Linked DNA regions of Homo sapiens: region 1 is linked to region 2. Evidence: fine-mapped expression QTL. A gene starts in region 2. The other region holds a variant in brackets. All regions are shown on one strand. Distances are from middle to middle. Region 1 has its middle 22 kb from the start of ACADS. Region 2 holds the start of MLEC (malectin).

Evidence for each region. PIP is the estimated chance that this variant, and not a neighbour inherited with it, causes the effect.
Region 1: its variant is the best candidate, but not a certain one, in a credible set for the expression of MLEC in neutrophils (BLUEPRINT, PIP 0.90).

The regions. Positions count from the first base shown.
Region 1 is chr12:120,741,788-120,754,337 of GRCh38, forward strand. No RefSeq gene overlaps it. Among named protein-coding and RNA genes, the nearest start is that of ACADS, 22 kb to the left of the region's middle. RefSeq lists a silencer at 5,918-6,133. The variant A/G (reference allele first, on the strand shown) is at 6,343.
Region 2 is chr12:120,678,681-120,690,666 of GRCh38, forward strand. MLEC (malectin) reads left to right here and starts at 8,469. Exons shown (of 5, transcript NM_014730.4): 1 at 8,469-8,851. The coding sequence starts at 8,617. It overlaps LOC105370029 (a long non-coding RNA gene), which reads right to left and starts at 8,469. Exons shown (of 3, transcript XR_945449.3): 1 at 8,174-8,469; 2 at 4,216-4,325. It also overlaps a transcript of CABP1 not described here. RefSeq lists enhancers at 1,555-1,664, 7,848-7,957, 8,048-8,177, 8,272-8,773 and silencers at 6,384-6,473, 7,588-7,687, 8,528-8,827.

The sequences.
Region 1 (12,550 bases), 63 kb after region 2:
GGCCCTGGAGGGTCAAAGGTAGCCGACTTGAGCCACACCGCTCCCAGCAGGGCAGAGGGCTGGAGTCAGCACAGGCCGAGTGGCAGCCCTGGAGGGGTTTCTGCTTCTCAGACCTGCCCAGGGCTCGTTCAGGTGGCCACGAAGAGCCTTTCCAGGAAGTGCAGCCTCGGAGGCCTGGGGTCCTCCATTTCAGATGAAGCAACCCAGGCTCCGACCCAAGAGCCAGTCTGTGCACTCGGGGGCTTTGAGGTGCCGTCGTGGGTCCGGGGTCTGTCCTTCGGTGAGGGAGAGTCGGCACAAACCCTTGGCTTTGACGGGGTGCTGCCCGTTAGTGGAAGCTCCTCCTAACTTAGAACTGAATGTGGACTCTGCCCCCGGGCCACTGGAGCCCGAACTGTCCTAGAGCCCATGCCCCTCTGGATACAGTTTCCTCAGTGTAGATTTCCTAAGGACAAGGACGTTCACTTACAGAACAACAGGACCGTTTCCCACCCTGGTCAACTTTCACATCTGCACACTCCACTCGGATTGTGCCAGCTGGCACGGTGTCTGCGAAGTCAGCTCTTCTCAAGGTCCAGGGGCCTGCATTGCATGTAGCTGAGAGGCCACCTGTTTCCTTCCCTCTAGCCCTCTGGGACAAGTTCTCCATGCTTTGGTTCTTTTTTTTTTTTTTTTTGGAGATGGAGTCTCGCTCTGTTGCCAGGCTGGAGTACAGTGGCGCAATCTCGGCTCACCGCAGCCTCCACATCCCGGTTTCAAGCGATAAAGCGATTCTCCTGCCTCAGCCTCCCGAGTAGCTGGGGTTACAGGCATGCGCCACCACGCCTGGCTAATTTTTGTATTTTTAGTAGAGACGGGCTTTCATCATGTTGGCCAGGCTGGTCTTGAACTCCTGACCTCAGGTGATCCGCCCGCCTCGGCCTCCCAAAGTTCTGGGATTACAGGCGTGGGCCACCATGCCTGGCCTGAATTCATACATTTCTAAGTGTGGCTTTTGCTTCATCTCATACATTTTAGTGTCATATTTTCCTTATTACTCAGTTTTCTGAGGCCCATTGTGCTTTCTATTTTGATTTATCAGTTATTTAGGAGAGTATTATTATGTTTTGAGACAGGGTCTCTTCTCGCTTGGGCTGGAGTGTAGTGGTATAATCGCAGCTCACCACAGCCTTGACCTCCCAGGCTCAGGTGGGCCTCTTACCTCAGCCTCCCAAGTGGATGGGACTACAGGCGCCACCACACCTGGCTATTTTTTGTATTTTTAGTAGAGATGGGGTTTCACCATCTCTACTAAACATGTGACCAGCCCAGGCTAGTCTCAAACTCTTGGGCTCAAGTGATCTGCCCGCCTTGGCCTCCCAGAGTTCTGGGATTACAGGTGTGAGTCACCATGCCTGGCCAAAGAGTATTATTTTATTAATATGGGGTTTTCTGAGGTATTTTTTGTTAATGATTTTTAAAAACTGTGACGGAGTTTACAGTTTTAACCATTTTCAAGTGTACACTCAGTGGCATTAGGACATTCATCATGTTATGCAACCATTGCCACCATCTAGTTCCAGAACATTCTCATCACCCCAGCAGGAAACTCCATACCTACTGTTGCTGGTTTTTACCTTAATTGCATTGTGGTCTCAGCACATTTTCTGCACTATTTGAATTTTTTGAAATCTGTTGAGATGTGCTTCACGGCACTAAGTTACTTTTTATGAAGATTGAATATTAGCAATTTGGTTTTTCCATGTTGATACGTGAAGTTCTAGTTCATTTATGTGGATGGCTGCATGGTGTCCCATGGGATAAACTATATTGAGGTAGTTTCCTGCTTTTTACTCTATAAACCATGATGCAGTGGACATTCTGGCATGTGTGTTTTTCTAATGTGAGAACTTGTGAGCATTTAAATCGAAGTGGGCTTGCTGGGCCTTAAGGCTGTTTATTTCTTCAGCTTCGCCAGATATTGCCAAATGGCCCTCCAGAGGTTGGATCAGTGGTCGGATCACCCTCTATGCATATGCGAGGGTTGATGACGCGCATTCTCCCCGTTCCTTGGCACCCACAGATTTTACAAACGTTCTTCAATATGGTTGTGATTTTAACTTGCATCTCCCTGGTTTCTTGAGAAACTGCACGTCTTTTCACGTGGTGATTGGTCATTCTGGTTTCTGCTGTGAATTGCTATTGTCTGTTTCTTCTTTGGGTTGTAATTGATTTGTAATTGTCCCACGTGTTTACTCTTGATACTAATCATTTGTCAGATATCTGGTTGCAAAAGGACTCATACAGTGTGTGGTTTTCCCTTTATTTATTATTTTTTTTTGAGACAGAGTCTCGCTCTGTAGCCCAGGCTGGAGTGCAGTGGTGTGATCTTGGCTCACTGCAAGCTCCACCTCCTGGGTTCACGCCATTCTCCTGCCTCAGCCTCCGGAGTAGCTGGGACTACAGGCACCCACCACCACACCCGGCTAATTTTTTGTATTTTTAGTAGAGACGGAGTTTCACCGTGTTAGCCAGGATGGTCTCGATCTCCTGAACTCATGATCGGCCCGCCTTGGCCTCCCAAAGTGTTGGGATTACAGGCGTAACGCACCGCACCCAGCCTTCCCTTTTAAAAAATGGGTTCAGCCAGGTGCGGTGGCTCACGCCTGTAATCCCAGCACTTTGGGAGGCGGAGGCGGGTGGATCACCTGAGGTCAGGAGTTCGAGAACAGCCTGGCCAACATGGCAAAACCCCATCTCTACTAAAAATACAAAATTAGCCAGGCATGGTGGTGTGCGCCTGTAATCCCAGCTACTCGGGAGACTGAGGCAGGAGAATCGCTTGAACCTGGGAGGTGGAGGTTGCAGTGAGTGGAGATTGTGCCACTGCACTCCAGCCTGGGCAACAGAGCAAGACTCATCTTAGGAAAAGAAAATTTTAAAAAATACAGTTTAGTAGAAGGAATACGTTCTAGTGTTCACACAATATGGTGATTATTGTTATCAGTATTTTTTGTATATTTCAAAACAACTAGAAGATTTAGTATGTTCTCAACACAAAGAAGCGATAGATGTTTGAGGTGATGGATACCCAGTTACCCTGATTTGATCATTAAACATTTTATGCATGGATCAAAATATCACACGTACCCCATAAATATGTACAATTATTGTGTATCAGGTTAAAAAAAAAAAAGGCTCTTATGTGTAGCAGAAGGGCAGACATGGTGCAGGCAGGCCAGAGACCTAACAGGAATTTGCAGAGCTCCAGAGCCTGAAGACTCAGCCCCGGCAGATTGCTTAGGCCAAGGGCAGGGGCGTGGGAAGGAAAACCTGGCATCCGGAAAACGGAGCCATCTGAACGGATGCCCCTGATGCTGCTCTCCAGCCCAAACTCTCCAGGGTGCAGAGGGTGGCTGCCTCTCCATAGGAAGGTGAGGGCTTCTGCTACTGGAAGAGTCTGCGGAAGCCGCTCCCAACAAGGCCACAGGTGCCCCTCTGCAGCGGCCCTCACCTCCTCTCCTGGCTGCCGGGCCCATGACTGCGGTCGAAGCCCAGTGTCACCCAGCTGGGGACAGGCTGGAGCTGATGAGAAAGCGACGCTACACTGGTATTGGTTTTCTACTCTAGCAACACATCACTACACGCTTAGTGGCTTGAAGAAATACCCATCTTAAAGGGCCAGGCACAGCAGCTCAGCCCTGTAATCTCAGCTCTTCGGGAGGCCGAGGTGGGAGGATGGCTTGAGCCCAGGAGTTCAAGAGCAGCCTGGGCAACACAGGGAGAGCCCATCTCTACAAAAAATAAAAAATAAATTAGCTGGACGCAGTGCCGCATATCTAGAGTCCTAGCTACACAGGAGGCCAAGGAGGGAAGATCACCTGAGGCCAGGGATGCAAGACCAGCCTAGGCAACATAGTGAGACCCTGTCTCTACAAAAAAAAAAAAATTAGCCAGGCTCAGTGATGCATGCCTGTACTCCCAGCTACTTGGGAGGTTAAATTAGGAGGATCACATGAACCCAGGAGTTCGAGGCTACAGCGAGCTGAGATTACACCACTGCACTCCAGCCTGGGCAGCAGAGCAAGGCCCTGTCAAAAAACCAAAAAAAAAAAAAAACCAAAAAAACAAACCCATCTCATAGTTTTCATGGTTCAGGAGTCTGGGCGTGGCTTAGCTGGATGCTCTGTCCAGGGTCTCACAAACTGAAAGCAAGGGACTGCAGTCTCATCTGAAACTCCGTTCCCTTCCACGCTCACGTGAGCATTAGCAACATAGCAAGGCCCCATCTTAAAAAAAAAAAGATAAACATATAAATACTAAAAGAGTCCGAGGAAGTGAGACGGGCGAGTCAGGGGACTCATGTTTTTGGTACGAGATTTTAATACAATTTGATTTTTGTGTATTTTATATTTAATACACAAAATGAAAACATGGCATACCAAAACCTATCATACTCAGCCGGGCGCGGTGGCTCACGCCTGTAATTCCAGCACTTTGAGAGGCTGAGGTGGGAGGATCACGAGGTCAAGAGATTGAGACCAGCCTGGCCAACATGGTGAAACCTCATCTCTACTAAAAATACAAAAATTAGCTGGGCATGGTGGCATGCACCTGTAGTCCCAGCTACTCAGGAGGCTGAGGCAGGAGAGTCGCTTGCACCAGGGAGGCAGAGGTTGCAGTGAGCCGAGATAGTGCCACTGTACTCCAGCCTGGGCGACAGAGCAAGACTCCGTCTCAAAAAACAAAACAAACAAAAAAAAAAACTATCATACTCATGCTGATGAAATTTAAAATCTACATAAATGATTTATCTTCCAGGAAAACAAATACACAGAATTGATTCTAGAGAAGGCAGAAAAAACAAACAAACACAAAAAACAGACCAGTAAGACTAGAACAAATTGAAAAGGAGTTAAACATTTGTCCCCACAAAAGGCATCTCCTAACAGAGTCAGTGGAAATGTAACTCAACTGGAATTGCCTCTCAGAGCAGGCGGAAGGGTAAATTGGTACAATTATTGAGGAGAAATGCTGTATTCCAACAATGAGCATACATACAACTATAAAAAAGAATGAACTACTGACCATAAATTGCTAACATGGCTGAATCTTACAAATGTAACATTAAGCAAAAAAGGTTAGGCTCAAAGCTGGGCACAGTGGCGTGCACCTATAACCCTGGCTACTTGGAGGCTGAGGTAGGAGGATTGCTTGAGGATGCTCCAGCAGTTGGAGACCAACCTGGGAAACATAAGGAGACCCCCATCTCAAAACAAGCAAACAAAGTTAAATTTAAAAAAAGGTAGGCCAGACATGGTGGCTCACGCCTGTAATCCCAGCACTTTGGGAGTCCGAGGCAGGCGGGTCATGAGGTTAGGAGATCAAGACCATCCTGGCTAACAGAGTGAAACCCTGTCTCTACTAAAAATAACAAAAATTAGCTGGGCGTGGTGGCGTATGTCTGTAATCCCAGCTACTCAGGAGGCTGAGTCAGGAGAATCGCTTGAACCCGGGAGGCGGAGGTTGCAGTGAGCCGAGATTGCACCACTGTACTCCAGCCTGGGGGACAGAGCGAGACTCTGTCTCAAAAAAGTTTATAGTCAAGACTTCATAATGTATTCACTGTATTACATGAATTTCAAATGCAAGCAAAACTAATCTGTGGTGACTGAAATTAGAACAGTGGTTACCTTGGGGGCCACTGACAAGAGGCACAAGAGAAGCTTGCTGGGTGCTGGAAAGGTTTTATATTCTGATCCGAGTGGTGGTGGTTCAGGTATAGTCATGTGGAAAGAGTCACGAAGGCTGTACACTTAAAATAGGTGGACATTAATGCTTCCAGCTCAGTATTTTTTTTTTTAATAAAAAAAAAAAAACACGGTATCTGGCCCAGATGGCTCTATTGAGAGTTCTAAAAGAGGCAAGAGGAAAGGCCAAGGGTTTCCACAGTCTGCGTTTCTGTTGTGAGCAGGCCTGGCTTACTCAGTCTTTGCTGCTCTCTGGGAGTGCCTGGAGCTATGGCACTGACCTGGGACAAGCTGAGAAGGAAACTCTTGGAAGGTGCATGTAGTTACTGATGAATGTTAATCTGTAGGCCTGGTGCACTGGGGCAGGATGAGCAGCCTGTCAGATGTCAGAATGTTTAACATCAAGATTTAGGATGTGCGGCCGGGCGCGGTGGCTCACGCCTGTAATCCCAGCACTTTCGGAGGCCGAGGCGGGCGGATCACAAGATCAGGAGATCGAGACCATCCTGGCTAACACGGTGAAACCCCCGTCTCTACTAAAAACAAAAACAAAAAATTAGGTGGGTGTGGTGGCGGGCGCCTGTAGTCCCAGCTACTCGGGGCCGGGGGTGGG[A/G]GGCTGAGGCAGGAGAATGGCGTGAACCCAGGAGGCGGAGCTTGCAGTGAGCCAAGATCGTGCCACTGCACTCCAGCCTGGGGGACAGAGACAGACTCTGTCTCAAAAAAAAAAAAAAAAAAAAAAAACTTAGGATGTGCGTCTGGCCTCTGTTTTGGAGTGCTGTGTTTTGGTTACCATGGCTGGTCATGTGGCAGGAAAGTGCCTATGTGACCATCTTCTTAGAACAACAGGTTTTGAGACCTGGGTGTTTCCCTGGGCAGAGACATCTCACATCTCTGTGGTTCACACCTGGAAAGAAACACACCGTGCAGCCTGCTCTCGGCCTCCCTGGACTTTGTCTATGTGTATCTTTCTCTCTGGTCCCGTGGTGTATCCTTCGCTTAGTCAACCTTAGCTGTGATATAACCTCATCAGGTCATGTGAATCCTTCTAGTTAATAACTGAAGTAGGAAGGGGTCCCGATTCATCCGCCATAGCCCCCAGCTCTGCCTCACTCAGGTCTGCTGTGCTCCCCTCTACATTTGCTCACAACCGCCTTCTCTCCCTAGAATTTTCTTCTGATCTTTAGTTCCCTGAATCAATATGCTTTCCTTTAATCTCTATAGCACTCAGGCTTTGGCTAAGGCAGGAAGCCAACAACCTATATGCTAGTTCACCACCTTGGGGCAAACCAGAAGTCACCCACTATTAAAAAAAATTGTTTATTGCTGACATATTTCGTTTTTATTTCTGTTTATCTGGTTATGTTGAAGAACTTCGTTAGTTCTTTCAATAGATTATCCACTCAGGCCGGGCATGGTGACTCACACCTGTAATCCCAGCACTTTGGGAGGCCCAGGTGGGTAGATTACCTGAGGTCAGGAGTTCGAGACCAGCCTGGCCAACATGGTGAAACCCTGACTCTACTAAAAATACAAAAATTATCCGGGCGTGGTGGTGCACGCCTGTAATCCCAGCTACTTGGGAGGCTGAGGCTGGAGAATCGCTTGAACCCGGAAGGCGGAGGCGGAGGGTGCAGTGGAATGGTATGGTGCCGCTGCACTCCAGCCTGGGCGACAGAGCAAGACTCTGTCTCAAAAAAAAAAAAAAAAAAGCCTTTTTTTACACTCCTCGATACCAAGGCTCTCTGGTGCTCACACTTAGCCGTGAACTGCTTGTTCACAGTTCTCAGTTTCTCACTTGCTGCAGATAGAGCATCAGGACGATTGAGCAGTGAGCAGCCACCTCGGCACTTTCCCTGGCATTGTCCCACCTCCACCCTGGATAGCCTTCAAATTCTGCATCATCACAGCTGCCACAGCATTCCCTCCTCCAGGACATTCCCAGGTCACCACTGATCAGATCTTTAGCAATGGAGCCACCACGCTGGGCTGGGATCTATTTATGCCACCTACTGACCAGAACACCAGAACACCTTGATGTGGGTCATTTTTCATTCATTTAGCTGGGCACGTGGTGGGTCTTTCCATCTAGAGATCCATGTTTTTTTCCTCCATGTTCTTTAATTCTTGGAACTATTACATTATTTCTTTGATAATTTTATTCACTTTTTTTTTTTTTTGAGACAGGGTCTTGCTCTGTTGTCCGCACTGGAGTGCAGTGGTACAATTATGGCTCACTGTAGCCTCAGGCTCCTGGGCCCAAGCAATCCTCCCACCTCAGCCTCCCGAGTAGCTGGGATTACAGGCATTTGCCACCAGACCTGGCTAATTTTTTTTTATTTTTAGTAGAAACAGAGTATTGCTATGTTGCCAGGCTGGTCGCAAACTCCTGGGCTCAAGTGATCCTCCCATCTTGGCCTCCCAAAGTGCTGGGATTATGGGTGTGAGCCACTGTACCCAGCTTGATTCACTCTTTTTTTTTGGTTTGCTTTCTAAATTCCTAGAAGTCTGATGTTGTACTTTCTTGGTCGAACCTCTAATTTTCTTTTCTCTCCTATTTTCCTACTTTGACACTCCTATGTTTGAGCAGATCATCGATTTTATTTTTCTATTCTTATTTGTTTGTTCAAAAATGTATATTGAGCACTTATTCTAGGTGCTGGAGATACAGCAGAGAAAAAGACAAAGCCCTTGTTTTTTGTTTTTTTTTCTTTTTTGAGATGAGGTCTTGCTCTGTCACCCAGGCTGGAGTGCAGTGGCATGATCATAGCTCACTGCAGCCTCAAAGTGCTGGACTCAAGTGATCCTCTGCCTCAGCCTCTCACATAGCTGGGACTACAGGTGCACACCACCACACTAAGCTAATTTTCTTTAATTTTATTTTTTTTTAAGATGGAGTTTTGCTCTTGTCCCCCAGGCTGGAGTGTAATGGCACAACATCGGCTCACTGCAACCTCTGCCTCCTGGGTTCAAGCGATTCTCCTGCCTTAGCCTCCCTAGTAGCTGGGATTACAGGCACCCGCTACCATGCCCAGCTAATTTTTTGTATTTTTAGTAGAGATGGAGTTTCACTATGTTGGCCAGGCTGGTCTCGAACCCCTGACCTCAGACAATCCACCTGCCTCAGCCTCCCAAAGTGCTGGGATTACAGGCGTGAGTCACTGCGCCTGGCCTTTTTAAAATTTTTAGTAGAGATGGAGGTCTCACTATGTTGCCCAGGATGATCTCAAACTCCTGAGCTCAAGTGATCCTCCTGTAACCCCAAAGTGCTGGGGTTATAGGGATAAGCCACTATGCCTGAACCCTTGTTGATTTTGGATTCCAGTTTTTTTTTTTTTTTCTTTAAGCAACAGGGTCTCACTCTATCATTCAGGCTGGATTGTAGTGACGTGATCACTGCTCACTGTAGCCTCCAATTCCTAGGCTCAAGAGATCCTCCTGCCTCAGCCTCTCTGTAGCTGAGACTACAGGTGGCGCCACCGTGACACACTTATTTATTTTGTAGAGACGGGGTCTTGCTATGTTGCCCAAGCTGGTCTCAAACTCCTAGCCTCAAGAGATCCTCCCTCCTTGGCCTCCCAGATACTGAGATGATAGGCATGGGCCACTGCGCCTGGCAGTTTCTTTTCTTAATTCTTCCCAGTCACACTGTGTGGTAGTGAGAGAAGGTGGTCAGTTGTTTTCACTTTTCTGAATATGAGGCCTTGTGAGAATCGAATACATGGTCCGTTTCCATCAAGAGTCCATGAGAACTGAAAAGGTTATGTTTTGTATGATGGTAGAGATTAATAAAATTGAACGAATGTTGATAATTTTATTCTGATTCATTCATTCATATTGCAGCAGCTACTATATCTAAGATACTGTGCAAACCATTGGGAGAAACAGTGGGTGAGCAGAAACAATTCCTTTTTTCACAGTCCTTGCAGGCAAGCTAGTGCTGGTGGTGCTAGTGGCAGACACTAATCACATCGCAGCCTCAATGGGATGCGTGCAACGCAGGAGAGGAGCAGAGTTCTAGGAGAGACTAAAATAGAGGAACCTGAGCTGGAATGCTGAGTCACAAAAGGCTTCCCTGACCAGGTGACAGCTGAACTGAGATCTGAGGGATGAGTTGGCGTGAATGAGACAAAGAGCCTAGAGATGGACAGCCCAGGCCTGGGAAATGGCTTGTGCAGATGCCCTGTGGTGGGAGAGAGCATGGTCTTCAAGGAATGGAAGAATGGCTGGAGGACGGAGCGGGAACACGGCGTGAGATGAGCTGGAGAGGCGGACAGCCATCTCGGGTACAGTCCTATGGGTCACATAGATTTCTGCCTTGTCCTGGAAGTGACAAGGAAGCCTTTGGCGCATTTGACTCAGAGAGATGGTGTACAAATGTTTTTGTTTGTTTGTTTTTACAGAGTCTTTCTCTGTCACCCAAGCTAGAATGCAGTGGCACAATCATAGCTCTCTGCAACCTCAAACTTCTGGCCTCCAGTGATCCTCCCATCTCAGCCTCCCAAAGCACTGGGATTACAGGCATGAGCCACCACACCTGGTCTGAAAATATTTGTTTTGAGGCCAGGTGCGGTGGCTCATGCCTGTAATCCCAGCACTTTTGGGAGGCCAAGGCCGGTGGGTCATCTGAGGTCAGGAGTTTGAGACCAGCCTGGCCAACGTGGTGAAACCCGGCCTCTACTAAAATACAAAAAATTAGCCAGGTGTGGTGGCGCATGCCTGTAGTCCCAGCTACTTGGGAGGTTGAGGCAGGAGAATCGCTTGAACCCGGAGGCGGAGGTTGCGGTGAGCCGAGATTGCACCACGGTGCTCCAGCCTGGGCGACAAGAGTGAAACTCTGTCTCAAAAAAAAAAAAAATTGTTTTGAAAAGATCCCCTCTGGCTGTGGTGTGCAGCGCAGTGAGGAGGTGTGGAAAGAGGAGGTTGGTCAGAGTGGAGAGTTAGGAGGCTCCTGTAATGATCCAAGAGGGAGATGATGGTATCTTGGATCTGGGTGGAGACAGGAGATGGAAAGAAATGGATGGATCCCTGGAATGGCAGGCAGGTTAAACAAACAAGAGTCAGTGATGCATTTCCTGGTCATGGGGATGGAGGGAGAAGGGCTCTGTCCTGTCCAGCTGGATGAATGGTGGTATCACTCCGGAAGAAAAGGGAGAACTTCATTAGTGGTGCTGGGGAGAACAGATGATCGATCTGTCTTAGGCACTATGAGCTTTTTCTCTCTATACACATTCTTTTTCTACTTGCATTGTCAGAGACTGAAAGAAATTGTGTTATTCTTCAATTACATTTTTATTTCTATCGATTTCTCGTGTTGCAGTTTTGCTTATGTAGTTTGATGGTAAGAGTTTACAGCAGTGTTACATTTTGAAGATTTTAATTTTTAATTTTTGAATAAAAATATTGGTATGTGTTCAAAATTGTAGGCAGCCTCTATGACTCCCAATTCCCTCTCCAAAGGTAACCCTGGTTTCTAGCTTAGGATGCATAAGAAAATATACAGTATAGGTTATGGTCCTCATCTTTATTCATTTCATTCCTGAATAATAATCTGTACACATACACATTTTGTTCAGTTAATGACAATTTTGGTTGTTTCTTCTTTTTGGTTATTAATACTGCTATGCACATGTATGTATAAGTTTTTGGTAGATACAGATTTTTAATTCTTGTAAACTGTAACTATGAATGAAACTGCTAGATCATATGGTAACTATGGTACCTTTGGTGGAACTGTGAAGCCATTTTCCAAAGCAGCTGCACCATTTTATAATCCCACCAGCAATGGTGGTTTTTTTTTTAATTTTTTTTTAAATTTCTATTTATTTTTTGAGATGAAGTCTCATTCTGTCACCCTGGAGTGTGGTGGCGCGATCTTGGCTCACTGCAACTTCCACCTCCCGGGTTCAAGTGAGTCTCGTGCCTCAGCCTCCCTAGTAGCTGGGATTACAGGTGCCCACCACCACTCCTGGCTAATGTTTGTATTTTTTAGTAGAGACGGGCTTTCGCTGTGTTGGCCAGGCTGCTCTCGAACCCCTGGCCTCAAGTGATCTGCCCACCTGGCCTCCCAAAGTGCTGGGATTACAGGTGTGAGCCACCCTGCCCGACCCCAACAATGTTATGAGGGCTCCATTTTCTGTACATCTTTGCTAACTCTTGTTATTGTCTTTAAAAAGTTATTGTCATCCTAGTGGGTGTGAAGTGATGTCTCACTGTGGTTTTGATTTGCATTTCTCTAATGGTGCTGAACATCCCTTTCATGTGCTTATTGGTCATTTGTGTGTGTGTGTGTGTGTGTGTGTGTGTGTGTGTGTGTGTGTGTGTGTATATTTTTTTTTTTTTTGAGATGGAATCTGGCTCTGTTGCCAGGCTGGAGTGCAGTGGCACGATCTTGGCTCACTGCAACCTCTGCCTCCCTGGTTCAAGTGATTCTCCTGCCTCAGCCTCCCGAGTAGCTGGGATTACAGGCACGCACCACCACGCCTAGCTAATTTTTGTATTTTCAGTGGAGACGGGGTTTCACCAGGTTGGCCAGGATGGTCTCGATCTCCTGACCTCGTGATCTGCCCACCTCAGCTTCCCAAAGTGCTGGGATTACAGATGTGAGCCACCGCGCCCAGCCCATTTGTATATATTTTTTGGAGAAATTTCTATTTGTATCTTTTGCCCATTTAAATAACTGGATTGTCTTTTTTATTGTTGAGTTGTAAGAATTCTTTTTTTTTTTTTTTTGGGACGGAGTCTCGCTCTATCGCCCAGGCTGGAGTGCAGTGGCACGATCTTAGCTCACTGCAAGCTCCGCCTCCCGGGTTCACGCCATTCTC
Region 2 (11,986 bases):
AGGCTTTAAATCCAGGTCTCTATGCCCCAAACACCCACGACTATGATTTACTGATCACTTAGCTACGTGCTCAATGGTCCCACAATGCTAATTTTAAAAACCACATCCTGGACGGGCGTGGTGACACATGCCTGTAATCCCAGTACTTTGGGATGCTGAGGGGGGGGCAGATCACTTGAGGTCAGGGGTTCGAGACCAGCCTGGCCAACATGGTGAAACCTTGTCTCTACTAAAATACAAAAAGTAGCCAGGCGTGGTGGTGTATGCCTGTAGTCGCAGCTACTTGGGAGGCTGAGACAGGAGAATCACTTGAACTGAGGAGGCCAAGGTTGCAGTGAGATGAGATCACGCCACTGCACTCCAGCCTGGGTGACAGAGTGAGACACCATCTCCAAAAAAAAAAAAAAAAAAAACCAACTTTAATTTTTTGTTTATTTAAAATATGTTTTCTTATTTTTAACAGTCCTACAAGGTGGGCACAATTATTCTCTCCATCCCACAAATGAAGAAACTAAGGATCAAAGAGGTGAATTCATTTACCCAAAGTCACACAGTGACTAATGGCAGAGCTGTGATTTGCACCAAACTATGTTTGCTACATAGCCAGGCTCAAAGGAAAAGAAGTATATTAGATGCCAAAACATTGGATTCTGGCTGTTCATTGTGTGACTTTGGACAAATCCCTCAACTCTCTGAGCTTTAGCTTCTCATCTGCAAAAAAGGGAACATGACCTAGTTTTCCAACGTTTTGAGGTCATTAAGAGCATCGGATAAGTAGGAACCAATGATTATTGAGAAGCTGCTCTGTCAGGACCTGGGTTTATATGCCTTATATCAGTTTTGGATGAAATTTTGGTGAATTTTGGGCTGGGCGCAGTGGCTCATGCCTGTAATCTCAGCACTTTGAGAAGCCGAGGTGGGCGGATCACCTGAGGTCGGGAGTTCAAGACCAGTAAGACCAACATGGAGAAACCCCGTCTCTACTAAAAATACAAAATTACCTGGGCATGGTGGCGCATGCCTGTAATCCCAGCTACTAGGGACGCTGAGGCAGGAGAATCACTTGAACCCGGGAGGTGGAGGTTGCGGTGAGTTGAGATCGCGCCATTGCACTCCAGCCTGGGCAACAAGAGCGAAACTCTGTCTCAAAGCAAGAAAAAAAAAGAAAAAAGAAATTATGGCAAATTTTATCTTTAAAAAAGTCTCTTCTGGCCAGCATGGTAGCTCATGCCTGAAATCCCAATACTTGGGGAGACTGAGGTGGGCGGATCACTTGAGGTCTGGAGTTTGAGACCAGCCTGGCCAACATGGTGAAACCCCATCTCTACTAGAAGTACAAAAATTAGCCAGATGTGGTGGCACATACCTGTAATCCCAGCTACTCAAGGAGGCTGGGGCAGGAGAATTGCTTGAATCCGGGAGGCAGAGGCTGCAGTGAGCAGAAATCACACCACTGCACTCCAACCTGGGCAACAGAGTAAGACTCTGTATGGGAAAAAGAAAAATTCTCTTCCATGTCGTCTGCATTTTCTACAAAAAGTGTATCTTTCTTCCACAGAGAAAAATAACTGCTGCCCATTTAAGAACTACCTATTTAGTCCTTACATCAATGTGGTGTGCGTTTCAGGAGAAAGGAGACTCAGCAAGAAAGGAAGTGATGTGACTGGGAAGCCGCTGAGGAAGGAACTGAACCCAGCTCTGTCTGACCCCCAAATCTTGGTTCCTGTTACTCTAACGAGGGCAAGTCCTCCATCCTGAGAGAGTGCTGGAGGATTTGCAGAAATGTTTGCAGCAAACCAGCCCCAGCTGAAAGAGGTGGGAATGCAGCCGCCCCAAGTGTTTCTGGGCTCTCAGATGGGGATGACCTTCCACAGCAGGGAGGGGAAATGGGAGACTGGAGCCCAAATTCCTCATTGTCTACAGAGAAATGGCCTGGGTCCAGGGCCACCTGGGGACTGACACTCTTCTCAGCTTTCCCAGGGCTCAGACTCCATGCCTTCTGCATGGTCTATCCTGAGAGCAAACCTGGGGTTATCTGGGGACCCCTCTGGGTCAGTGCTTTTGGATATAATCCTGCCCTGGGTTCAGGCCCTCTAGCCTGACTCTGGCCTTTTTGTCTTCTGCCCCCAACCCTATCAAGGCTCATGCCTGTAATCCCAGCACTTTGGGAGGCCGAGGCAGGAGGAGAACCCAGGAGTTTGAGACCAGCCTGGGCAATATAGCAAAAGACCTCATCTCTACAAAAAAAAAGAAAAAAAAATTCAGTGGGGCATGGTGGCACATGCATCTAGTCCCAGTTACTAGGGAGACTAAGGTGGGAGGATCCCTTGAGCCCGGGAGGTAGAGGCTGCAGTGACCCAGGATTATGTCACTGTACTCCAGCCTGGGCAACAGAAGGAAACCCTGTCTCAAAAAAAAAAAAAAAAAAAAAAAAAAAAGGACCGGGCGCAGTGGCTCACGCCTGTAATCCCAGCACTTTGGGAGGCCAAAGTGGGTGGATCACCTGAGGGCAAGAGTTTGAGACCAGCCTGGCCAACATGGTGAAACCCTGTCTCTACTAAAAATTCCAAAATTAGCTGGATGTGGTAGCATGCCTGTAGTCCCAGCTACTCGGGATGCTGAGGCTGGAGAATTGCTTGAACCCAGGAGGGAGAGGTTGCAGTGAGCCGAGTTTGCGCCACTGCACTCCAGCCTGGGCAACAGAGACAGACTTTGCCTCAAAAAAAAAAAAAAGGCATAGATCTAGTAGCCTTCTATAGTACAAGATGGGGGTCCTACTCCTGATACCACCTCAGGTGCGCAATTTTTTTTTTTTTTGAGACGGGTTCTTGCTCTGTCACCCAGGCTGGAGTACAGTGGTGCAATCTCAGCTCACTGCAACCTCTGCCTCCCGAGTTCAAGCGCTTCTCCTGCCTCAGCCTCCCTAGTAGCTGAGACTACAGGCGCACACCACCACGCCTGGCTAATTTTTGTATTTTTAGTAGAGACGGGGTTTCTCCATGTTGGCCAGGCTGGTCTCAAACTCCTGACCTCAGGGTGATCCGTCTGCTTTGGCCTCCCAAAGTGCTGGGATTACAGGCATGAGCCACTGTGCCTGGCCTTTTACTTCCTTTTATTCCTGCTCTAAAACTTGTCTCTGTCTCTCTCTCTCTGCCTTTTGCCCCTTAGTTGAATTCTTCTGAGGAGTCAATATATATATATATATATTTTTGAGACAGAGTCTCACTCTGTCACCCAGGCTGGAGTGCAGTGGCATGATCTTGGCTCACTGCAACCTCCACCTCCTGGGTTCAAGCGATTCTCCTGCCTCAGCCTCCCAAGTAGCTGGGACTACAAACGCATGCTACCACGCCTGGCTAATTTTTATATTTTTGTAGAGGTGGGGTCTCGACATGTTGGCCAGGCTAGTCTTGAACTCCTGACCTCAGGTGATTCACCTGCCTTGGCCCCCCAAAGTGCTGGGATTACAGGCGTGAGCCACCACGCCCAGCCAAGAATTGAGGTGCTGTAGACTCGTACAGATTTGTGGCTACAAACAATTTTATCAAGAGTTCCTAAAAGCGTATATCTGGGACCAGGTGCAGTGGCTTATGCCTGTAATACCAGCACTCTGGGAGGCCGAGGTGTGAGGACTGCTTGAGCCCAGGAGTTCGAACCAGCTTGGGCAACATCGCAAAAGACCCCATCTCTACAAAAAAATAAAAAAATTAGTGGGGCATGGTGGCACATGCCTCTAGTTCCAGTTACTTGGGTGGCTGAGGTAGGAGTATCCCTTGAGCCTGGGAGATCGAGGCTGCAGTGACCCATGATTGTGCCACTGTACTCCAGACTGGGCAATGGAACGAGACCCTGTCTCATAAAAAAAAAAAAAAACCAAAAAAAAAACATAGATCTAGCAGCTTCTTACAGTACAAGGTGGGGGGTACAAGTTCAGAAGGCAAGAACTCAAGAGACTTTCTTTCTTTCTTTTTTTTTTTTTTTTTTGAGACGGAGTTTCGCTTTTGTTGCCCAGGCTGGAGTGCAATGGCACAATATCGGCTCACCACAACTTACGCCTCCCGGGTTCAAGCGATTCTCCTGCCTCACCTTCCTGAATAGCTGGGATTACAGGCATGCACCACCATGCCCGGCTAATTTTGTATTTTTAGTAGAGATGCGGTTTCTCCATGTTGGTCAGGCTGGTCTTGAACTCCCAACCTCAGGTGATCCACTCACCTCGGCCTTCCAAAGTGCTAGGATTACAGGCGTGAGCCACCGTGCCCGGCCGAGACTTTCATTTCAGAGTAGCAATCGGTTGAGTGCCTTGGCTTGTGCCAGGCATGAATCTGTCAAAAATAAAATCAGATCAAGTTAAAATTTCAGGAGTTGATTGTGCATACAAAGGAAGAGTCTGTGAATCGGGAGATTACAAGATTGGCAAGAAGTCTGAATTGACAGCAGTTGTAGCACAAGAGGAAGTATTTTGACCCTTTACATGATTGGCTGATATATATTTTTTCAAAGGCAAATAGAGCTGCTTAAGCTGGTTTGTCTATGGCTGATTGGTTTAATTCTGTGGAATCATGCTAATAAGGGAAGAAAACTTATTCTTGTGCTTTGTTTATGTTTAGAGTTAGCATTTTGGAAAATCAGGTGCTAAAATTTTGGTTATGTGGCTATGGTGGTTGGTCTCGGAGTATCTAAACAATTGTTTCAGCTCTTTATCAATTCTAATGACTTTATTATATGCATTACCACCTTCTCCTCCTCTTCTTCATGCGGTTTTATTACCTTCTTTAATCCTCACGTCTGCCCTCTGAAATAGAAACTATTCCAGGCCAGGTGCGGTTGTTCACACCTGTAATCCCAGCACTTTGGGAGGCCAAGGCAGGTGGATCACTTGAGGCCAGAAGTTCAAGACCAGGCTGGCCAACATGGAGAAACCCTGTCTCTACTAAAAATACAAAAATTAGCCAGGCATGGTGGTGCATGCCTATAATCCCAGCTATCTGGGAGGCTGAGACACGAGAATTGCTTGAACCCAGGAGGCAGAGGCTGAAGTGAGCCGAGATCATGCCACTGCACTCCAGCCTGGGCAAGAGTGAGACTCTGTCTCAAAAAATAAATAAGTAAAATAAAGTATTCCAGTCATGTGCTACATAACATTTCAGCCAATGACGAACCACATACACGATGATGGTCCCGTGAGATTATAATATTGGCTGGGTGCAGGGGCTTAGGCCTGTAATCCCAGGACTTTGGAAGGTCAAGGCGGGAGGACCGCTTGAGGCCACAAGTTAGAGGCCAGCCTGGACAACATAGTGAGAATCTGTCTCCACAATAAATAAATAAATAAATAAATAAATAAAATTTTGTGTGTGTGTGTGTGTGTGTGTGTGTGTGTATATATATATATATTTTTTTTTTGAGACTGGATCTCACTCTGTCACCCAGGCTAGAGTGCAGTGGTGCGATCTCGGCTCACTGTAACCTCTGCCTCCCGGGTTCAAGCGAGTCTCCTGCCTCGGCCTTCCGAATAGCTGGGATTACAGGTGCGCCCCACCATGCCCAGCTAATTTTTGTATTTTTAGTAGAGACAGGGTTTTTCCATGTTGGTCAGGCTGGTCTCGAACTCCTGGCCTCAAGTGATCCACCCACCTCAGCCTCCCAAAGTGCTGGAATTACAGGCATGGGCCACTAGGCTGGCCAATACTGTGTTTATACTGTATCTGTGTTTAGATACGCAAATACTTACCATTGTGTTCAACTGTCTACAGTATTCAGTAAGGTAACATGCTGTAGAGGTTTGTAGTGTAGGAGCTATCAGCTATACCATATAGCCTAGGTGTATAGCAGGCTATCCCCATCTAGGTTTGTGTAAGTACACTCTGTGATCTCTGCACAATGACAAAATCGCTTAATGATGCATTTTTCAGAACGCATCCCTGTCATTAAGTGACTCATGACTGTATCTCTATTTCACAACTGAGGAAACTGAAACTCAGCGAAGTACATCACTTGCCCAAGGCCACACAGTGGGTAAATGGGACTAGGCATGGGATGCAGGCAGCCTGTCTTAGATCCCACGCTCGGATCCCATACCCTGCCTCCAGGGTCTCAGACTTTACGTTTTACTGAAAAGACAGCCTAATTCATGAGCAGCTGGATCTCAGAAAGGGAGCCAAGCTCCTTGGTACACAGATGGCCCAACCACGAATGGTATCTGAAGGGCTCAATAACAGGAGCCAGCCGGGTATCTTCTTCACCCTCTGGGGTGACCAAAGACACGAAGGACTGAGAGAAAGCCTTTAGAGGCCTCCCCCAAAATTTAATCCGTTTTTGTGATTGTTTCTCCTGGACTAGACTGCCTTGAGGATAAAATAAACATGAGCGCCTGGTGGCAGTGCAATACCTGAGTGGTACGTGGGCTCTGCAGGCCAACTGCCTGGAGGGAGGAAGCCCCATCACCACTACTTGTGTTTCTGTTCCCCATTTGCACCACACCCCTCCTTTGAGGGTAACTGAAGCCTCTGAGTTGTCAAGATCCTTAAAAGATGACAGTTTGAGAGAGAGAATAGTAGAATTAGAAACCCCAAGAGGCCAGGTGTGGTGGCTCACACCTGTAATCCCAGCACTTTGGGAGGCCGCGGACCCCGAGGTCAGGAGATCGAGATCATCCTGGCCAACATGGTGAAACTCGGTCTCTAATAAAAATAAAAAAAACTAGTTGGGTGTGGTGGCGCGCGCCTGTAGTCCCAGCTACTCAGGAGGCTGAGGCAGCAGAATCGCCTAAACCCGGGAGGTGGAGGTTGCCATGAGCCGAGATTGCACCACTGCACTCCAGCCTGGCGACAGAGCAAGACTCTGTCTCCAAAAAAGACAGAAAAAAAAAAAAAAAGAAACACCTTGGACAGGAAACATGTCTATGGGAGGAAGTAAGGCCAGATGCTTGCAAAATAGGGGGGAAAGTGAGACCGGGAGGGAACACTTCCAAAAGTTACCCCCATGGGGTCTGAATTTGGGGCCTGGGAAGGAATTTGGGTGCATTTAGATCCACCACTGATAGTCTCTATTTTGGCACCCTGTTTTGTTCCCGTATAGCACTTACCACTGTTCTAACTAAACAATTAATTTCATTATGGGTTGTGCAAAGTCTATGATTCTCATGCGGGACCCCAGGTGTGTTTTTTGTTCATGTAGCACAAAGCTCATTGCCTAAGTAGTAGGTAGGATTGGTAGATAAAATACAAGAAGTCCAGTTGTTTAAATTTTAATAAACAATGCATTTTTTTTTTTAGTATAAGTGGGTCCCATTTGCTTATCTGAAATTCAAATATAACTGGGCTTCTCCTATTTTATCTGCCAAATCTGACAACCCTGGTAGCAGGGACTTGATACATTTTTTTCCTTTTAGGGAGAATTTCTAAATCGACCAGTATTTATGGAAAATGCATAAGCGTTTTTTTGTTTTTTTTGTTTTTGCCTTGACTCTGCCCTACACTTGCGGTGCGACCCTTTGGCAAAATTCAGTCCCTTTCTATGCCTCAGTTTCCCCATCGGAAAAATGGGAGTTTGAACAGCGACCGAAGCGCAGGGATCGCCAGTGTGGGAGAGCGCCAGGTGAACTGTGAAGGAGCAGGGAGGGAGTTCGGGCCGTGCCCGTGCGGGACAACCCCGGTATCCACTCTGGGCACCGCCGGCGGCGACTCCCGCCAGCGCCTAGGGTGCCTCGGTCCCGCCCCTACGCAGCGGAGGCCGGCCAGAGGCCGTCGCCATGGAGACGCGAGCAGCCTGGCACCCACTCGCTCTCAAAGCCACGCGTTTCCGCTGCGTTGGAGCCTTCTCATTGGACGGCCGTCTGGACGCTACCACCCGCCCCGAGCCCGCTAAGGGGAGGGGGCGGGGCCTTATTCTCATGGGATTCGTTCCCTGGAGACCTGTGTCCGCGGCCTCTCTGGGAAAGCATGGGTCCTCTCCCTCACGCGGGGAAAAGGACTGCGTCTCTTAGGTCTGGAGAGTGTCCATTGCTTCTCCTACTAGAATTTATGCTCATGCTGCTCCCTGAGAAAAGAAGAGGGGGCGGGAAAGTCGGCCACGCCCCCTCCAGAGCCTATTTGGTCTCAGGAGCTAGAGCACCGGAAGTGCTGGCGACATGTCAGTGCGCCCTACCCTAAACCTTCCCCCCCCAGGCCACCTTTCCCATTCAGCTGTGGGATTCCGGGGCCGCCTGGGCGCTGCACCCGCCACTTCCGCATCGAACCGCCGCTTCAACCGAACTCACTCCCTCTGCGCGCGCTCCATCTGGTGCCCGACTGCTGGGCCGGCGCCTGGGAGAAGCCACGCCCTTTCCCGCGCCTGACAGCCAATGAGCGGGCGCCTCCCGGCGGGGTGGTGGGTAATTAATGAGGGCCGGGCGCTGATTGGCTGCAGCGTCGTGGCCGGGGGCAGGGCGGCGGGGTAGGTTGTTCCTGAGGTGGGAGGCGGTACCCGTGGCTGAGAAGAAGGAGGCCTGAGAGCGACATGTCCCCGGCGGCTCAGGCGGAGCGGCCCGTGGCGCTGTTTTTCTGAGTCCGGGGTGGCCTGGCAGCCGGCCGAGGACGAGGGTCGGCGGGGGCTGCCCCCGTGGTGGTGGCCGCCATGCTGGGAGCCTGGGCGGTTGAGGGAACCGCTGTGGCGCTCCTGCGACTGCTGCTGCTGCTGCTGCCGCCGGCGATCCGGGGACCCGGGCTCGGCGTGGCCGGCGTGGCCGGCGCGGCGGGGGCCGGGCTGCCCGAGAGCGTCATTTGGGCGGTCAACGCGGGTGGAGAGGCGCATGTGGACGTGCACGGGATCCACTTCCGCAAGGACCCTTTGGAAGGCCGGGTGGGCCGAGGTGAGAGTCCCCCTGCCGAGCCGCGGGATCCAGGGCCTGCTGTGCTGGGCGCAGCCGGCCGGGGGCTGCGGGCCCCGAGCCCCTTTCGACCCTGGGGCCGCGTCTCTGGAGCGAAGTTTCTCTCTGCAGCTTCTTCGGGGGCCCGCTCTGAGCTCAGGGCCTGGCACTGGCTCCAAGGTACCTAGAGTCATACAGGCAGAGAGTTGGCCAGAAGTTAGTTATATTTGGATTTCTCATCCTGCATTTTCTCAACCCCTCACTCCCATCCAAGCTGGGAGAGAAATGACGAAGGCGGCCTTTTGCTACCTCCAGGCCTCGCGGGTTGTAGGTCATGGGTGCCCCTGCTTCTCCTGTCGAGACAGTTCTTGGGAGATTCTCGTCGACCCAGGAATCGGCCGCTTTCCTTGCCCCTTCTGCAGGAGCGGGGCTTGATTCTTAGCCAGAATAGGAAGGAATCTTCGAAGAGAATGGGCCAGGAAAGTTTGATTGTAGCCTCCTCCCCCGCCCTCTTTTCGAGCGAAGAATATGTGTGCTTAAAAGTAGAATCGGCAGGCCGCCCCCAGAGGGTGGTTCTATCGAAGCCATCCTGCACGTGAGGCTGGTGGCTGTGTGTGAACTGGGTCAACCAGTGTAAGAATCCGAATGGTCTATCAGAGAATGCTTACAACCTCCCCTAGGTGATCCTGAGAGTTCTAATTCCAGCTTAGGGGGAAAATGATTGTGACTTAACTTGCTGGGCAACAGTGGTTTTTAACGGAGCTGCTCCCTTCCCAAAGTTAGTGTGTGTCAGAATTGCCAGGGCAGCTGGTTAAAAATGCAGATTCCTAGTCCCCACTCGAAATTGATTATAGTAGATTGAGCTTTTTTGCTGGGATCCAGGTTTCTGCACCAGGGGCTTGTGATGTAGGTTGCCCCGAGACCACCGTTTTGGAAGATCAGCTTTATAATCTTTGTTTCTTCTGTTGGAGGGATTGGAAAACAGGTTTCAGAAGGAAGTTCTTTGCTAGGAGATTGATACTGTATGCTGGGTTCAGAGGCTACCAAATTGGCAGTATGCCACCTCCAGACAACCAGGAGACAGACTCACTCTTCACTTTCTCTCATTCTTTTTCTGCGATGCCCAGATTTGGCTCTTGCTTTTACTAAAATAGTTAGTTCTTCCCAAGTCGATTGCAGTGTCCTGGAGTTTGTTATATTAAGGAGTTTATTGCCTTTCACACATGTGAGGGTCTTGGGACACAGGGCTGTTTTGTGAAGTTCTATGTTTGTCTTGGAGTTTGTTGAGCCCTGGCATGTAGATCACAGTAGCCTGGGTTCAGCTGACTCAGGGCTCCAGTCTTTAGCAGCGGTAACAGCAGCCAAAGCCAGACTTTATAGCAGGAGGTCATTACTATCTCTATCCTGGACCCTTCCTCTTTCTTCACGAGTGTGGGCAGGGAGGAAAGAGCCCTTGAGGAAACTAGACAGTTTGTGGACTTTGCCTCTTGAGATAGCGGTGGTGAGGGTGCTGAGCGGATGGTTTCTTTCACTTAGCAGATACCAGGCCTTACATTGGTTACATCGTCCTATTCAGTCTGTTGTGCAGAGAATAAAGCCGAGTAAGACCACACAGGTTTAGTTCCCAGATACTGCCCTTATTCAGAAATTCTGGTTTTAATTTGCTGATGCAGGTGGTGTGTGTGTGTGTGTGTGTGTGTGTGTGTTTCTTTGGCTTGGTCAGCAGTCAGCCAAGATCTGTGTCCTTGGGTTATTGGCTCATGGTTGCAGTTCCTTGGAAGGAGTTTATTGTAGCAGGTAAAATTACATGAGACCTACCAAAGCTTGTGTGTACTGGAGTCCTATTTCGGACACTGGCCCTTGGGGCATTGTATAAATGAAGGTTCCCTGCTAAGGTTCCCCTCTCCATTCTACCAATCTGGGTAAGAATTGGAGCAGTATTAAGGCATGGATGGGGAGTGGGAGGTGGCGCTTGTCAGCTGCAGTTTGGACCAGCTTGTTGCAACATTGCGCTTACCAGGTTCCTGAGAAAGGCATTTTGCTGGCTTTAGGTCGGGCTGAGATGCGCATAAGCTTGCACTCTCAGGAGGCAGCTCTCTACTAAGGAGTCAGTCCTACCAAGGGAAGTCCAGCTGTTCACACTGCCTTTCTTCTGGGCCTGTTTGGATAAGGGTGTGCCAGGTATTTGAAGACCCTTGCCTCGTGCAGCTATTTACACTGATTGCAGTAGGAACTGTATGCCTTATTTCTTTTCCCGCCTGCCTGTGATATTGTTTCCAGCATGCTGAGAAAAGTTGATTTTATGTTGAATGAATTCAGGTATTTGTTACCAAGTTAGTCCAGATAAGGGTTTGGCCTTCTTTTGAACTTGCTGTTTCTGTGTAGTTTCTTTGTAGTTCAACATTCTTGTAATTGTGAGTGGCCCAGGGCACCTAGTGGTTTATGCTTTCAAAAGCAGTTCAGAATATTTATTGAATTTCATTTCTGCCTTGAGGATAGCTAGTGCTTACAGCCTGGGAAAGGCTTTTTCAGCCTGTGTGCTTCCACAGATGGGAGCACCACTACAGAAAGTGGTTTAGAAGCGTTCACCTTGGGGTTTTGGTATGAGGCACATTCCAGGGTTTTTATTTATTTATTGAAAATTTTTAATTTTTTTTTTATTGTAGACACAGGGGTCTCACTATGTTGCCCAGGCTGGTCTTGAACTTCTGTCCTCAAGTGATCTTCCCACCTTGGCCTCCCAAACTGCTGGGATTACAGGCATGAACCATCACGCCTGACCATGTTCCAGATTTGTAACTTGGTCATTTTGAGTTCCTCTTCACTCTGACTAGGAAAAGACCTGGTTATTTGACCTGAGGGCACAGAATTTTGCTTGAGTTTAGGGAAGGCTATTTCCTCTTCAGAGAAAGATACCTGCTAAAGTCGCAGGTCCTCGAGAAACTTGCTTTACGTCTCTGAGCCTTGTTTTCCTTTTCAAAAAATCTCTCATGCTTTAGAAATTTCTGATAAGACTGTAAACTCTCCTGTCCAGAGTAGCTTGAAGTGTCTCTGTCACTTTTTTTTTCCTTGATGACCTTTTACATGGAATTAAAAATAGGGCAGAACATAGCTCCAGAGGGGAAAAAAGTTGGTTGG